Regions from separate parts of the Homo sapiens genome. Here region 2 is linked to region 1. Evidence: fine-mapped expression QTL. A gene starts in region 1. The other region holds a variant in brackets. All regions are shown on one strand. Distances are from middle to middle.

Region 1 (4,376 bases):
AAATATAATTAGGCTTCCTGCATGCAAACACACACACCCCTTTCTCTGCCTGGTCTCTCAATAAGAAACTAACTCATTAAGCCCTTTTTAAAAAACCTGTACAGACGCAAGGTGTTCACAGGGAATTCGGCTGAGCACACCTTCGTCGAAAGTGGCTTTGCCATCATCTGGGCAGCAAGACAGTATCACTCACCCTCCAAGAGCAACTGACAGGCAAGTGTCGTCACCTCAAAAGGCCACAATGCCCAACACAGGACACCCATTCCCATAGACATCCCAGACTCTGGGAACAAATGTGGGTCCAACTTCTGGGCTAGCAGTGGGTGGGGGAACCCTCAGATGGGGCTCGCCCTGCTGAGCTCAGGGGCGCTACGCTCTGCTGACCTGGATGGGGCACTGACACTTCACATCAGTGTGATGCAGGCAGCACAGAAGCCCCTGTCCTGAGACAGCGAACACGGAGGGTGCTGCAGGCAGGGGTGCACCTGGGCCGAGACGCAAGCCGGGAAACCTACCCAAGGCTGACACAATCAGATAACCAGGGTGGGCCTTTTGCAAATGATACACTCCTTACCCACCAAACGAGCTGTCTGCACTGCACAATCTACTTACCAGTTTACATCCGAACCCTGCACACGGCAGCTCCCGCCTCCTAGCCATGCCCTCCTCATCCTCAGCTCCTCAGGAGGGCAGCAGCCAAGCCCACAGGCCTGGAAGACTCTGCCCCCCGCCAACTGTGTCACGTTACAGGACACTGACACACCTCGCGGAACCCCACATCTGAAACTGAAAAACAGTACCATTTCCCGTCCCCAGAAGTCTGGAAAGGCAGTTGGCTGCACACCATGGCCCCTGCTCACTCCCTTCTTTGCCCTGAAAGTGTTAAAAAGGAAAACATAAAGTCAACACCAGCTCCTCCCTGCCGGTGAAAATTGGCACGAATGAGTTTACTTTCTGGCTGCCGGCCCTCACAAAACCGTTACCCAAAAAAAGTTCACCATGCTAAACTGCTCCAAATATAAATGTGAGACGCGCCGGCCCACCCCCACCCCACCCCACGTTACAGGAATGGCCTGACCAGGATGAGCCCAGAGACGGCTAAATGCACATCAAACATTTCAGATTTGGGAACTTCAGTGGTTTTGGGGAAAAGACCTGGCAAAGCCCGATCTGAAACTTATGACAGTTGAGCACATGATCTCCGCCATGAAGAGCAAATAAGAGGCGTACACAACCCTCCATAAGACCGCGGTGGCTGATCTGCCACAAACCCTCCTACGAGAGGACCAGGACGGCAAGGCCGGAGCCCGGCCCGGGGGGAGGTTGACGATTCCGCCCAGCCCTCCCCGCGCAGCGCCCGCGAACAATGGGGGTGGGATCCCCCGGGCCGCGCCAGGACCGCTGCACGGCCTGAGCCACCAGAGATCGAACCCGGGGTCCAACGACAAGTTTCGCATTGAAATCTGGCCGGGCGTTCCAGGCCGAACCCGCCAGCGAGGAGGTGGCGCGCACCGCGCTGCTGCACCAAGGACGCCGCGGCTCCAGCGCAGAGCGCACGGGAAGGCCGATCCCGCCGGGCCCGCTGCATCCTGCGTCCCCGCGCGGCGCCCAGGCCCCACAGACACCCCCAGGGCGCGGGGGGATCGCGGCCCCACAAACATCCCAGGGCGCGGGGGATCGCGGCCCCACAAACACCCCCAGAGCGCGAGGGGATCCCAGGCCCCACAGACACCCCCAGGGCGCGGGGAATCGCGGCCCCACAAACGTCCCCAGAGCGCGGGGGATCGCGGCCTCACAAACGTCCCTAGGGCGCGGGGTCTGGGGGTCCGGGGGACGCGCACGCTCCGGGCTGGGGTCGCACCTCCCCCTCCGGGCCCGGCCCCCGCCCCGCCGCAGGCCCCGCGCCCCCAGCCCTCCGCGCGCGGCCCTCCCCGGTGACAGCGCGGCCCGGCCCGGGGCGGGGGCCCGGTTACCTTCCGACAGCTCCAGCTCCAGCTCGGCCAGGCGCGCCCGCACCTCCAGGGGCAGCGCCATGCCCTCCAGGCTGCGGTCCGCCATGCTCCGCGGGCGCCGCGCCCCGCACGGCCTCCTCTTTGTTCGCAGGCGGAGGTCTCGGCGGCTCCTCGCGCCCGGCGGAACCGCACCGAGGAGGAGGCGGCGGCGCGGGCGCGGGAGGCGGGCGGCGGGCGCGCAGGGACCTCCCTCCCCTCGGCGCCTCCTCAGCGCGGCCCCGCCACGGCCGCCTCGCGCGCCCCCGCGCCCCACGGTCCCCGGCCCGCCCCGCGCGCGCTCGGCCCCTCCCCGCAGGCGCTGCGGACCCGGACCCGGCCCTGCTGCTCTCGGCCCCGGCCCGGCGGGAGCGTCTCTGCGCGCGCGCGTCACGGGGCCGCGGGGGCAGGGCGCGCGCGCGCGGGGCGCGAGGACGCGCAGGAGCGGGAGCGCGCGGGGGGGCGCGCGGCCGCGTCGGCGAAGCGCGCGCTCCCGGGGGCGCGCTCGGGGGCGGGTTGGGGGCTCGGGGCCCGCGGGGCGGGGCGGGGCGGGGCGGTCTTGTCTGTCCTGGGCTCTGCGCGTCCAGCGGAGCCTGCGGGCCCGGCCCCAGAGCCTGGTCCACCCGGCTCCCTGCGAAAATCACGTCCTGGAGCCGCAGCTTGACGTCTGCGCGAAAACTCGCAGTGCCCCGGGTCTTGGAGGGCTGGTTTTTTGTTAATGAACATTTTAAGAGGCGGAGACGGAGCGCTAGGCTGGAAGTTTCGAATGCAACGACCAGCAGATGACCTTGAGCGACTCTGAGCCTTTGCCTGGAGGGTCAGTGTCCCCATCTGTGAAAAGGGGATGGGAAGACAAGGTTGGGTCACCTAATCTCCAAATGCCAGGTGGGCCCGAAAAGCCTGGCTCCAGCCCTCCCGGAACAGGCTGCAGGCCCCAGGGTTCCCACCGTCCTTCTCCTTGTGGGGCCATCAGCTCCCAGCCTCAGTGCCACCTCGGCGAGGCTGAAGCCCCGTCTGTGCCTCTAGTCCTGACCATCTGGGGAGGCCCTCGCATCTCCAACCGTCCACTGAGCAAACTTCCCTGGAAGCCCCTAGACACCCCAAACGCCACAAACCCTAAATGAAGCCAGCTGCTTCCAGTGACTCTTAGTCACTGGAAGTTCTGCTTCTCAGAACCGCCCCCGTTGTCTTCATCATCACCTTCCTCTGTCTCCACACATCCTCCCCAGTCTGTTGCACAAAGCCCCGACGACCTGGCCTCCTTTTCATCCTTGTACCCCCTCTTCCCAGCCCGGCCCCTCCCTTAGGCCCAGAGCTTCCTAAAGACCTCCTCGCCTCCCCGTCCTCCACGGGACATTGGCCAGCGCTGGCTCCCGGAGGCCCAGCTGCACTCACTCCCCTTTCAGAGTGGGCCGCAGGAACACAGGTCCCCCACCTCACCCCCCTACCCCTACCCCCCACCACCCCCCCACCCCGCTTCGACCGGAGCCCCCACCAGCCGGGACCCACCTGCACGGCAGCCTTGCGGCCTCCACACTCCGGCTCCTGCAAACAACGCGGCTGACCCGCAGCACCTCTGCTCCCGGCCTCCACCCCGGAGAGCCTGCCCCTTCTCTGCCCCTGCCACCCACAGCCATCCCTGACCCCAGGTCCAGAACAATCTCTCTCCTTTCTCTTCCTGCACCGGCCACTTCCCGCCCTCATCACGTTTGACCTTTTTTATCTTCTCTGTATTCTTTGTGAGTGTAAGCGCCTGGAGGACAGAGCCCATGCCTCACCCACCTTTGCCCTTCCCATGGATCTAGCAGTGGTGGCAACCGCCAGAGGTGTGTGCATTTCCTGTAAGGATCGGTCCTTTCAGTGGGGAATTGTGAGAATGACATTCGACGATGAGCTGGGAAACAGGAACCCCAAACCCGTGTGCTTCCTGCGCCGAGCCGTGTGCCTCCGCCTGGTGTGCGCCGTGGGTTCGTCCTTCGCTCCAGACTGCGTTCAATGCAACAGATACGGGTGGCACAAGCATGTGGCCCCACCATCATCTCTCCCCTTTGCATGATAAAGAGACCGACCAGCAATGCAGGGGCCGTGGGGAAGATCCCACACAGCCCCTACACGTCACAGATAAAAGTCCTTAGAGACAGAAAGGGGAGCAGAACCAGGATTCAAACCCCAGTCTCCAAAGCAAAGCCCTGAGTTCATTTCATTACAGCAAAGATGCACTGTGCATTCCAAGCAATAAATGGTGTCAAGTCCATTTAGGGCGGTATAATGTCGGAATAAAAAATATATATTCGCGGGCCAGGCACGGTGGCTCACACCTGTAATCCCAACACTTTGGGAGGCCAAGGCAGGTGGATCATGAGGTCAGGAGTTCAAGACCAGCCTAGT
Region 2 (4,326 bases), 300 kb before region 1:
GCCACTCTGCTGGGGGAGGTAAGGGTGTCTCAAAAGATGCTGCTGCCTGCTCAGAGACCTCGCTTTAGATGTGACAGTGGAGAGACTCGCACCTGCCAGGGCTGCCAGCTGTACCCCGGAGCACGGAGCAGGCAGGCTGGCACCACCAGCGGGAGCTCCTCAGAGAGGCGGCCCCGCGACGAGGCCTCGAAAGCAGGGCTGTGTGGACAACGTCACAGCCGGAAAGTTGGGTGTTCTAATGACGAGAGTGACTAACGGCACCAGTGATGTAGCTGTCTGTTCTTTGGGACCTGATCATTGAATCACATGCGTCAAACGTGTAGGTGGAGTGAGTGCTTCAACTTTAGGCCACAGAATTCTCACACCGGCCACGTCAAATAGGATCGTCGTTCCATTCACAGACAGAAAAACTGAGGTTTGGATTTGAGAAGGGACTTGGACGCACGTCTGACATGCCTGAGTCACAAAGCTAAGAAAGGAAAGGCTGAGACACAAGCCCAGGTCCTCCAATCCCAAAGCAGGGGCTCCCACTGCACCAGCACATAACGGTGCTGGGAACAAGCTGCTCCATCTTATCCCAGGTCCTTCAATCCCAAAGCAGGGGCTCCCCACTGCACCAGCACACAGTGGTGCTGGGAACACGCTGCTCCATCTTATCCCCCAACAGCATCCAGACTTGAGAGACGACCTGTGTGTAACACGGAAAGAAGCCAGCCGGGCTGCTCTGCAGCCACAGATATTTGGTCTAGGAAATGCTTGCCGGCTCCTCTTCACATGAATTCTGGTTCGCCAAGAAACGGCGAATACAGGAATTCCTGTATTCATATGCCCATCACTCATGTGACAACTCCTAGAATTTTCTACCTCCAAAAGGTAAGAAGCTTCAGCGTAAGAAATTATTCAAAAGAAAAATGAGTGAAAATTACCACATATGAAACAGATGGGGGGAGCGTCTAAGCAGTCATGCTCCACGTAGCTTTTAAGGGCCAGGCCCACCTTAAACAAATAACAAGGCTACTTCCCCACGAAAAGTGCCCAAGCCCGGCACGTCATCCAGGGCACTCGTGACTGTGAGACAGTCGTTTCCCTACAACACACACAGACTGCCATCCTCAAGGGCAAATCTGGAAACTACTTTCCCCCGCAGAGTAACACAATAGCAGGCCCCACCGACTCAACAAACAGAAACATCCAGCTAACCAGATGTACGGGACAGTAGCCCACACACGAACCAACCTTTGACGTTATTCTAAGATACTGAATGCCAAAAGTGCGGGAAGAAAGATAATGATCTCCACGTGAGCCCTGGAAGGCTGTTTTCGGCAGCTGTAACCTCAATCCACGTGTCCAAGACCCTCACACCAGTGGCTGCTGACACAACTGGCTTTGTGGTGCAGTTGTGAACCACGTTAGTGGACAACCTCGGTCTTCTAACAGTGACGATTTTCTGCTTCACAGTGTGGCAGGAAGCAGCTTGCACAAGTGAAACGTAGGCAAATCTAGGCATTTGTATTCCTACACCCAGCACACTCCTGTGTGGACAGACAGTGAGGGGAGGGGACTCCTGTGTGGACAGGCAGTGCGGGCGGCGGGGGGGCGACTCCTGTGTGGACAGACAGTGAGGGGAGGGGACTCCTGTGTGGACAGGCAGGGCGGGGTGGGGGGCGACTCCTGTGTGGACAGGCAGGGTGGGAGGGAGACTCCTGTGTGGACAGACAGTGTGGGGAGGGGACTCCTGTGTGGACAGACAGTATGGGGAGGGGGACTCCTGTGTGGACAGGCAGGGCAGGGTGGGGGACTCCTTTGTGGACAGACACGGCCGGGGGGACCTCACTTACTGTCAGGATGCCATGCCAGAGCCCGACGTCCTTCTTGAAATCCAGCACATTCACAATGGTTTCAGCTGCACAACAGAGGGAGTCAGGAGATTTTTACTTAGGACAGGGCGGCAACAGATCAAAATGCAAACAAAATCCAATATTGCATCAGGGGAAATAACAGATCTTGGGAAAATATCATTTTGCCGTATCTTGGTGGAAATTCTGTAGACTCCAAGTAGGCCGGTTTGAGTGCCGGCCACCCTGGAGTTTCTCGACAGATATCCTGACACATGAGTGAGCAGCGTTAGCTCTCCACACTGC[A/G]CCTTAAAACGCAGCGTTCCTTCTCCTTTTATATATTTCCCCCTCTCTGCCTTTTTCTTTAAAAGATTTCTTTTCACTTCCTCATGAGTCTCCCAGGAAAGGAAGCTTTGCAGCTGGCATGCCCTCTGCGCACAGAGGAGGAAGTGGATTTTTGGCAACACAGGGGCCTACACAGCTCTACTGCAAGTCTCCAAGGTTGGAGCTGCAATAAAAAAAGGAGGCACTGCAATTTGGAAGACGGGGAGGACAATCTATTCAATGACTATGGGGGAGGGCTCTAAAAAGGTGCTAAAAGCTCGTGCTTGATGAGGTTTACCATCACAGAGCATGCTGGCCCTGAACAGACCTAGCTTTCTCCCGAAGTCACCTGGCCAGCCAAGGTCAGCAGCTGCCTGCAGGTGACTCAGTCTCACCTCCCCTTCCAAAGGCTAAAGTGTGGAGGATAATAGACAGGAGGCTTTCACAATAAATGGCCAAAAGTAAACAACCTAAGTTCCTTTTGAAAGTAGTGAAGTAAAGAGCGAACGTATCATTCCCTCCCCAACCTCCACAAGCGTGACCACCCTGGACCTTGGAGGCGCAGGGGGCAGTGCGTCCCCAGGTGTGAAAACTCCATGGCCAAACATCAGAATACCCACGAGACACACACGCTGTTTTTAAAAGGGAGATTATGAGGATGGGCAGATAATAAAAATAGTAGAAAAAGAAAAGTGTTTCATTCCACAGCGGAGCGGCAGATGCCACCACGGCTTCGTGAAGTTCCAGAAAGAGACGCCAGGCAGGGGTGCACGCCGCAGCGGTGCCCTGTCAGGAGCCTGGTCAAGGGGATGTCAGGGAGCCTCAGGGGGTCTCCGGAGGGGGTCTCAAGGGGCCTTGGGGCATCCTAAGGGATCTCAGGGACATGGGGGGGTTCTCTGGAGTCTCAAGGGGCCTCGGGGCATCCCAAGGGATCTCAGGGCCACGGGGATTCTCTGGGGGTTCTCTGGGGTCTCAAGGGGCCTCGGGCCATCCCAAGGGATCTCAGGGGCATGGGGGTTCTCTGGGGGTTCTCTGAGGTCTCAAGGGGCCTTGGGGCATCCCAAGGGATCTCAGGGGCATGGGGGTTCTCTGGGGTCTCAAAGGGCCTCAGGGCATCCCAAGGGATCTCAGGGGCATGGGGGTTCTCAAGGGGTCTCAAAGGGCCTCAGGGTACATCACAACGTCTCAGAACATCTCAGGAGGTTTCAGGGGATATCAGCAGGACTCAGGCCACCAATGGGGGGAGTCTCTGGGGTCCCCGGGGTCGCACCCTCCCCTCTCTGTGCCATTTCAGTGTGGTTGCCACAGTTCCCTCCACTCAAGTTCCCTCCACTCACTTCCCCTCTTTGCCTCCCATACCAGCCCACCCGGGGGAAGGAAAACACATCACGAGCACCAATGCAGAGACTCTGACTCAATTGGGAGGGTGGGTGGACACACAGGCGTTTTCTTTACAACTAAAGATATGCTCATGTGCACCCAGGGATGAAGCTCCACGGCGTTAACAGCGTCTCCCCAGATCCACATGCTGAAGCCCAGGCCCCGGCGTGGCTGTGTGGAGAGCGCACCTTTCAGGAGGTCCTTTGCATTCAGTGGGGTGGTAGGGATGGGTTCCTAACTGCACATCTTCTCACACCTCCTACGAGAAACCTGGAAGAGACCCCCACTGGGAACTGCCCAAGGACACGCTGACCTCAGACCTCCGCGCTGTGCGGACATAAATGTCTGCTGTTGAAGCCGCCCAGTCTGTAGTATTTGCTATGGTAGGCTGAGCTGATATCCTAACTCAACAATAAGTTCATGTCAGCGGAGCTGGGCACAAACTTCACGCTATTTCTATGGCTCCTCGTGGGAGTGATGTGGCCTTCGTGTCAGGTGTCCCGGTTAGAACCAGGGTCCCAAGGAGTCAGGGTCTGGCACCCCACCTTCCGTGTAGCCACACGCCTGCGTCAGGGCCTGGCAGTGTGTCAGCAGCGCAGTCCTCGTCACCGTCACACCCAGCACACTGCCATCCTTACACGTCTTGTACTGAAACGAGACAAAGCGTGAGGGAAGTGGGGCTGACAGGTCACGGCAGTTTTTCTGGTTACTTGAGGTTCTCCAAGTCCCTGAATTTTGGCACTCGTGTAACCGTCAGAAACACACGTTAGTGCCAAGGCCACACTCA

Direction of the effects. Alleles are on the strand shown, and positions count from the first base shown. SD is a standard deviation of normalised expression in the study named.
For the expression in macrophages of the gene that starts at base 2,148 in region 1, A is the low allele of the variant in region 2 and G is the other (moderate effect, 0.69 SD a copy in Nedelec 2016).

Evidence for each region. PIP is the estimated chance that this variant, and not a neighbour inherited with it, causes the effect.
Region 2: its variant is the best candidate, but not a certain one, in a credible set for the expression of DIP2C in macrophages (Nedelec 2016, PIP 0.67).

What each region holds. Positions count from the first base shown.
Region 1 is chr10:687,521-691,896 of GRCh38, forward strand. It overlaps DIP2C (disco interacting protein 2 homolog C), which reads right to left and starts at 2,148. Exons shown (of 37, transcript NM_014974.3): 1 at 1,974-2,148. The coding sequence starts at 2,058. RefSeq lists an enhancer at 2,523-3,458.
Region 2 is chr10:385,907-390,232 of GRCh38, forward strand. It overlaps DIP2C (disco interacting protein 2 homolog C), which reads right to left. Exons shown (of 37, transcript NM_014974.3): 13 at 4,085-4,187; 14 at 1,839-1,903. Among named protein-coding and RNA genes, the nearest start is that of DIP2C-AS2, 240 kb to the right of the region's middle. The variant A/G (reference allele first, on the strand shown) is at 2,142.